Homo sapiens: one gene and its partner. The protein of the gene in region 2 purifies or fractionates together with the protein of the main gene of each other region. This does not show direct contact. Each region holds a gene or a part of one and is shown on either strand. Other genes may lie near its edges. The genes, in order: CRAMP1 and BRSK2.

Region 1 (3,805 bases), on a different chromosome or scaffold from region 2:
GTTTCAGTGATGAACACGGTTTCTCAGATGGTAGTCCTTGTCACTCAAACCTGCCGTAGCACATTCAGCCTAATTGTTCACACACAAAAGCCCTGGAAAGGAGCACTTCATGCCCTTTGGTGCCTGTGTGTTACAAGCAGTGACTTTATTTTACTCACCCCATGTGTGAGGAAGCCCAGAATGGGAGGTGTCACTCCTAAAAGTCCATGTCCAGTGGTTATAAACAGGTTTGTATAACTAGTTGCATTCCAGTCAAATCCAGAAGAAAGTTCTGGATTAAAAGTGGATCAGGCCAGGCACGGTGGCTCGCACCTGTAATCCCAGCACTTTGGGAGGCCGAGGCAGGTGGATCACCTGAGGTCAGGAGTTCAAGACCAGCCTGGCCAACGTGGAGAAACCCCGTCTCTACTAAAAATACAAAAACTAGCTGGGCGTGATGGCGAGTGCCTATAATCCCAGCTACTCGGGAGGCTGAGGCAGGAGAATCACTTGAACCCAGGAGGCAGAGGTTTCAGTGAGCCGAAATTGCACCACTGCACTCTAGCCTGGCTGACAGAGCAAGACACCGTCTCAAAAAAAAAAAAAAAAAGTGGATGACTCTGACATTCCTCCAGTTTCCCTGGGGAGGGTTTGATTACCTGGGTTTGTTTGAGAGAGGACCTAACTGGAGCTTGGGGTACATGGGTCCTAACTGTCTGAGCAGTCCCAGGTACCCTGTGTCATCGGCTCTGGAAAAAGCCCCACCTGGCTATGCTGGGCACCCTCTTACTTGGGACATTCCTTTGTAACTGGGAGTGATTTTTTGGTATGGGAGTTTCATCACCTTGATTGTTGACCATTTTCCCCACAGAGAACACTGCTCCCTAGACCATCGGAAAACCAGTCCCACAACGTTTGTTCCTTCTCCATCCTGTCTAACTCTTCCGTAACTGGTAAGGACCCTGAGCTTTTCTGGGGTAGCTTGTCCCTCCTCCTCACAGGAGGGCCTTGGCTTTGGAGACAATGGGTGCTTATTTCCATGGCCTATCTTCAGGCATTCCTTTGTCCATTCTACCGACAAATACCTAATGTGCCCTATGTGCTGGGCTGCAGGCTGCGGTGGCGGGCGAGGCAGCTAGTCCAGCGAGGCAGCTAGTCCAAAGGGTGCCCTTCGTCTGTGGCCTCAGATGGCCCTGTGTGAGGCGCTTGGCTTGGTTAGAGTTGTGTCTCTTGTCTGCTCTCTCTGTGTAATGTCTTGTCAGCCGTTTTATGGGATGGATGTGTTCTTGGGGTGTATGGATTATGCTTCCATCAGTCTGTACATTTAGTGGGGGCCTTGGCTCCTTGCGGTAGATATTACACAGGGAGAAGCCTCTAGTGAAACACATACTCTGTGACTTCCCTTTTCTACCAGTGTTGACTTCCACGTCTCTCACTGACTTATTGCAAGACCCTTAACAGCTGTCAATTGCTTTTTCTCTTGCCTACTTGTCAATTTTCAACTGTGGGAAGCCTGGCAAGATAAAACCAAATTGCAGTGGCAGCATCTTAGTCCAGAATCTGATGCTCTGACTGCCCTGGGGCCTGTACCTCAGCTTGGGGGCTTGTCACCCTTCAAGAGCCATTTCCGCAGGATGACAGTGGTGACCGCAGCCTTCCAGTAGCTCCTGGGAGGCACAGTGGTGGGTGCCAGAGCTTGTGTCACGTTGGGGGCCTGTGTGACCTCTGACTCCTCATGTTAGCATTTGGAATGTTCAGTGGCTTCCAGCTTGGCTCGGCTCCCACACTCCCAACAGTGGCTGTAAAGGAAGCCCCCTGCGGCCACATCCTGCTGTGAGGGCATGGCGGGCGGGCTCGACATGTCTGCTTTTGCCCTCGCCCTCGCAGGGAGAGGTTCGTTCCGGCCCATCCAGTCTTCTCTGACCAAAGCAGCTCTGTCTCGGCCGATCGTGCCCAAGGTCCTTCCACCCCAGGCCACGAGTCACCTGGCCAGTAAGTCTGTACCTGCATGGCCACAGCCACTGAGTGAGCCTCTGAGGGATGTTTTTGTGACCAGGTTTTTTGAATGTTTTCTTCTCCAAATCATAATGTCTCATTACCCTTCACCAAGAACATCTAAGCCCTTGGCTCTTGCATTGACATGAGGTGCGAGGGAGAAGCTGTTCCCCGAGCCCTCTTGGGACATCTTATGGGTTGTCAGTAGAGCAGAGATGTGCAGCGTCCTTTTTGTTGCCAGGTGCTATCGACTTAGCAGCTACAAGTGCCGGCATCCTTTCCGGGAACCCCCTCCCTGCCTTGGACACCGAGGGCTTGTCTGGCATCTCTCCACTGTCTTCAGACGAGGTGACGGGTGCCATCTCGGGGCAGGACTCTACTGGAACTCACCAGGATGGAGACACCCTCCCCACCGTGGGGGTGAGTATGTTTAGAAGGGCTTTTCAGCATTACCACCAACTTCTGGTGTGGACGCCAAAGCCATGGGGCTGAGATCACGCTGGACTCCAGCTCTGCCTTTGGAGGAGAGTCTCTGGACCAGGGGTGCCATGGCATAAGCAAACTCTGTGTAGTACAGAGCAGGAGAGGCCTCCGGAGCCACTGACGAAAGGTGGGGACAGGCTTGCCATGTGGCACTGGAGAACTCAGAGCTAAGACGGTGTGGAAACATAGCTCCATCTGAGAGTGACCATAACCAAGGTGGCAGCCCACAGCGCTGTGCTCGGACACCACTGAGCATCTCTTTCATCTGGGAAGAGAGCAGCCTGTATGGCCTTGGCCATTGCTCCTTTCCAAGGCTCTGAGCACCTGGTTTCTCTGGCCTCCCACGGCCACTTCAGAGCTGCCCCAAGGAGGGTGGGGTGGGCTGATGCTGTTAAGACTCCAGGGAGCCCAGCCCTGCCTGCCACAAGGTTGACTTCCTGATAGGACTTTACTTCACTCTTGGAAGCAACAAAAAATTGGAAGTACACGGTCCACACCTGAAAGTAGCCTTTCAGTGTTCTCGACCTTAGACCCCTGTCCATTTACTGTCCCTCTGCTGTTAGGAGGCCAGGGGGATGGAACGCCTCTTTTTCTGGAACTCTGTCGCGGGTGAGGGTATGGGTGGCATCTGGTGCACCCTGCGGCTGCTCATGGGCGTGCTCTTCCTGCAGGGCTCCGACCCATTTGTCAGCATCCCTTCGAGGCCTGAGCAGGAGCCAGTGGCAGACAGTTTCCAGGTAGAGTGTGCTCTTGGGCTGCTGAGCAAAGCAGCTGCCCCAGGACTCCCTCCAGTGCCCTGAGCTGCCACCTGCAGTCTTGGAGTGGCCCGGCTTCTCTCCTAGACTGTGCAGTGGCTTTGCTGTTCTTCCACCTGCTGTGCCGACTGCCCAGGGTGGATAAATGAATATGGCTGTCCGCCACCTCAGACTTCCCTCCTCCCCTCTCCAAGGTGGGCTGTTTCAGACCCAGCTCTGGAAGAACTTAGCGCTCTGGAAGAACTCAGCTTTCTGGGAGGAGGAGGCTGTCAGCTAGTAACTCCCCCAGCCCCCACTCTCTTTCTGGCAGCAGTCAAAGCAGGTCCAGGCCACTGCAGCCTGACTTTCTGACTCTGCCATAGTGAGTGTTTTTGGGAGAAATAAATTCCCCGAGTGTGTTCCTGAGTTGGAAGGATGAGGTGACTGCAGCGCTCATCACCCTATTGATTTGCCTGCAAGCTAGGAGAGTAAGCTGGTGTTTCTTCCCTTGTCATGGGTTCTGATAGACCTGGTTGTGTCTGAAAAATACCTGTCTCCCAGCAGGGCTCATCTGTTCTCTCCTTATCTGAGCTGCCCAAGGCCCCTCTCCAGAA
Region 2 (3,805 bases):
AGCGCCGGAGCAGGGTGAGGCCATGATGAGAGGGCCCGGGGTCACTCCGCAGACTCGGGAGTGAGAACCAGGAGAGCTCGCTTAGGCCCAGGTCCGGGAGCCGGTCCGAGCAACTCTGGTGTCCTGGGGTACAGGCCTTGCTGGCCCCATGCAGTCCTCGAGGCGGCTGTAAGGGAAGAGGGACCAGGAGTGGGGGACGTGGGTGGAAGGGAAGAGGGACCAGGAGTGGGGGACGTGGGTGGAAGGGAAGAGGGACCAGGAGTGGGGGACGTGGGTGGAAGGGAAGAGAGACGAGGAGCGGGGGACGCAGGGGTCCACACACACCTGGCACAGCGACAACCTTAAGACACTCCCAGCCACCCTCAGAGCAAGGAAGGGACCTGGCCACCTCGGCAGCCAACGATGGTGGGGACCCAGAGGCCCTGGAGCTTGGGTCGTGGGCAGGAGCCACGGCCCTTGATAGTAGCTCCAGCTGGGCCTGCGTGAGATTTGCCAGAAACAGATCCCCTTGAAGCCTAGAGGCCAACCTCACATCACAGCCCAGGCCCTGCATTCCCCAGTGGTTCTGGACACAACTCCCTGCTCGGGCAGATGGTGGAGCAGGCGGGGCAGCAGCCAGCCACGGTGACTCTGGAAAGCCCTCCCTGGCACAGCTGGGGGAGGGGGCACAGCCTGGCCTTGAGGCTTCCACATCCAGGAAATCCACGGCGTGCACGCACCTCAGCAGAGCAGGGCCAGCACGGCCAGCACGATCAGGGCCGGGCGGTGCCCTCTGCCCAGCGTGTCTTTTCCAGCCATTGCCAGTGACAAGGCAGGGAGACCCACGTCAACAGGGACACACACACCTGAGGTGCCCAGGGCCACAGTGGGTGGGGACAGGACAAGGGCCTAGGGCTCCCGCCTCCAACGACCCTCCCGCCCCCGCCTAGGGGAACTGCCGTCCTCACCACCCGGAACCTCTGTGCCAAGGGCCCTGACAGGGACACTCAAGGCCAGCTCTCAGCTGGAAAGGGGGCTCCCTGTGGAGGGCATGCAGGGCAGGAAGACGCCAGGGGCAGCATCTTGAGGCCTCCACCCTGGCGCAGTCACTGACATGGCGCCCAGCGACACCAAATGGGCCTTTCCAGGGACTTCAGGGGGCCAGGGAGACTTCAGATGGGAGGGCTACCCACCATGCTGGCTCCCCGGGCTCTGTGCACGGCGCCCCTGAGAACAGCGTCCTGAGACCTCAGCTTGTAGAAACCCCGTGCAGGGCAGATGAGGGGTTCAGTCCAGCCCCAGGCTGCTGCTGCCCTGACAAAACAGCTGGGGTCAGATGGCCAGGGCCTGATGTGGGGAAGGCCACAGAATTCCTGGGGTCTCGCAGCAGACACCCCACGCTGAGTCCACCTTCACCTTCATGGCTGGGGAGGCTGCCGGGTCCTGTCTACCCATGCGCTCTCCGGGCTCAGCCCTGCACAGCCCATCTCCAGGGGCCCATCTCCAGGACCCATCTCCATGGCCCATCTCCAGGGGCCCATCTCCAGGACCCATCTCCAGGACCCATCTCCAGGACCCATCTCCATGGCCCATCTCCAGGACCCATCTCCAGGACCCATCTCCATGGCCCATCTCCAGGGGCCCATCTCCAGGACCCATCTCCAGGACCCATCTCCATGGCCCATCTCCAGGACCCATCTCCAGGACCCATCTCCATGGCCCATCTCCAGGGGCCCATCTCCAGGACCCATCTCCAGGACCCATCTCCATGGCCCATCTCCAGGGACCCATCTCCAGGACCCATCTCCAGGACCCATCTCCAGGGGCCCATCTCCAGGACCCATCTCCATGGCCCATCTCCAGGACCCATCTCCAGGACCCATCTCCATGGCCCATCTCCAGGACCCATCTCCATGGCCCATCTCCAGGACCCATCTCCAGGACCCATCTCCATGGCCCATCTCCAGGGGCCCATCTCCAGGACCCATCTCCAGGACCCATCTCCATGGCCCATCTCCAGGACCCATCTCCATGGCCCATCTCCAGGACCCATCTCCAGGACCCATCTCCATGGCCCATCTCCAGGGGCCCATCTCCAGGACCCATCTCCATGGCCCATCTCCATGGCCCATCTCCAGGACCCATCTCCAGGACCCATCTCCATGGCCCATCTCCAGGGGCCCATCTCCAGGGGCCCATCTCCATGGCCCATCTCCAGGACCCATCTCCAGGACCCATCTCCAGGACCCATCTCCATGGCCCATCTCCAGGGGCCCATCTCCAGGACCCATCTCCATGGCCCATCTCCAGGGGCCCATCTCCAGGACCCATCTCCATGGCCCATCTCCATGGCCCATCTCCAGGACCCATCTCCAGGACCCATCTCCATGGCCCATCTCCAGGGACCCATCTCCATGGCCCATCTCCAGGACCCATCTCCAGGACCCATCTCCAGGACCCATCTCCATGGCCCATCTCCAGGGGCCCATCTCCAGGGACCCATCTCCATGGCCCATCTCCAGGACCCATCTCCAGGACCCATCTCCAGGACCCATCTCCAGGACCCATCTCCATGGCCCATCTCCAGGGGCCCATCTCCAGGACCCATCTCCAGGACCCATCTCCATGGCCCATCTCCAGGGACCTGCACACCACAGCCCATCGCTGCCCGTCCTGCTCAACTTTCTAAACAGACCCCATCTCAGACCAGCTTCCTTCCCCTCCACATCTGCCTCCAGCTTCTGGGCCTGGGGTCACCCCCAGGGTCTCCCAGGCACAGGCTCTCCCTCCCCTCACCTGTTCCATCTTCAATGACTCCTCCCATCCCAGGACCCCTCTCCACCCTGGCAGCCACCAGGGCTCAACCTTCCTAAAGGCCATTGAGAACATGGAGGGGCGGCCCCAGGTCCCTGGCAGCCTAGGTCCCTCCCCCACGCCACAGCAGGTGAACACTGCCAGGTGAGCTGCAGGGCAGCCCCTCATCCTAGCTCCTTCGTTCCCTCGCAGGGAGCCCTATCGCGGCCATTATTCCTTTCTCCCGCCCCCCAGACAGAGGATTCCCGAAGGCAGGCCCCTCATCGTCCCATGCAGCCCACCCGCCTGCCCCCAAGAACAGCTCCAAGGGCCCGAGGTTCTCCAGCTCCTCCCACAGGGCCCTCCCAGGCCTCCCAGATTTCAGGAGCTAAGCCGAGGTTTGGGCAAGAAGGTGCCCTGCTCCACGTACTGATGGGGCACAGGGACAAAGGCGCGCAGGGACAAAAGCCACCCAGCCCGTGCCACACACCCTCCTGGACCTGCATGCTCCAACTCGGAGTGTCTGCGCCCTCCAACCTCCATGGTTGCCCTTGCTGGCAGGGACTGTGTCTCGGCATCTCTGCAGGGGTCAAGCTCAGATGAGGCTACACAAGCCTTTCTCAGCCCCAAGAAAAGCTAAGGCAGCACCTTTGCAGGTGGGTTCCCACCCCAACCCCAGCCTACATCCCCCTAAGTCTTGGCCAGAAACCACCAAGCAGCCGGCGAGGAGGCTTCCACAGATGCTCAGTGCTCTGACGGCTTCACCTGGTGCCTGGCACCGGCAGTGAGACCACTGAAGGCAACCCCCACAGCCACCGAGGGGAGCTGTGCAGAGGACGCCCCATGCAGAAGGACGACCCTACAGCCACACTGGCCCTGCAGGACGCACAGACCCAACAAGACAGGGAGGTGCCGTACAGGTGAGACCATGCAGCGCTCACGCTGAAAGGCAGAAGAAGACAGCCGACCGGACCCTGCGGCGTCTAGAAGGGCGTCCTCCAGGCCCCGGTGGGGGTGCTGCGTGGTCTCCCCT

The links.
Region 1: the proteins of BRSK2 (region 2) and CRAMP1 purify together in Homo sapiens (affinity purification with mass spectrometry; one large-scale study listed by BioGRID and IntAct). This does not show direct contact.

What each region holds. Positions count from the first base shown.
Region 1 is NC_000016.10:1,664,207-1,668,011, forward strand, and holds part of CRAMP1 (protein cramped-like), read left to right. Parts: intron 1-850; coding exon 851-932; intron 933-1,866; coding exon 1,867-1,971; intron 1,972-2,215; coding exon 2,216-2,394; intron 2,395-3,128; coding exon 3,129-3,194; intron 3,195-3,755; coding exon 3,756-3,805.
Region 2 is NC_000011.10:1,392,669-1,396,473, reverse strand, and holds part of BRSK2 (serine/threonine-protein kinase BRSK2), read right to left. Parts: intron 1-3,805. UniProt on the Homo sapiens protein: Serine/threonine-protein kinase that plays a key role in polarization of neurons and axonogenesis, cell cycle progress and insulin secretion. Phosphorylates CDK16, CDC25C, MAPT/TAU, PAK1 and WEE1.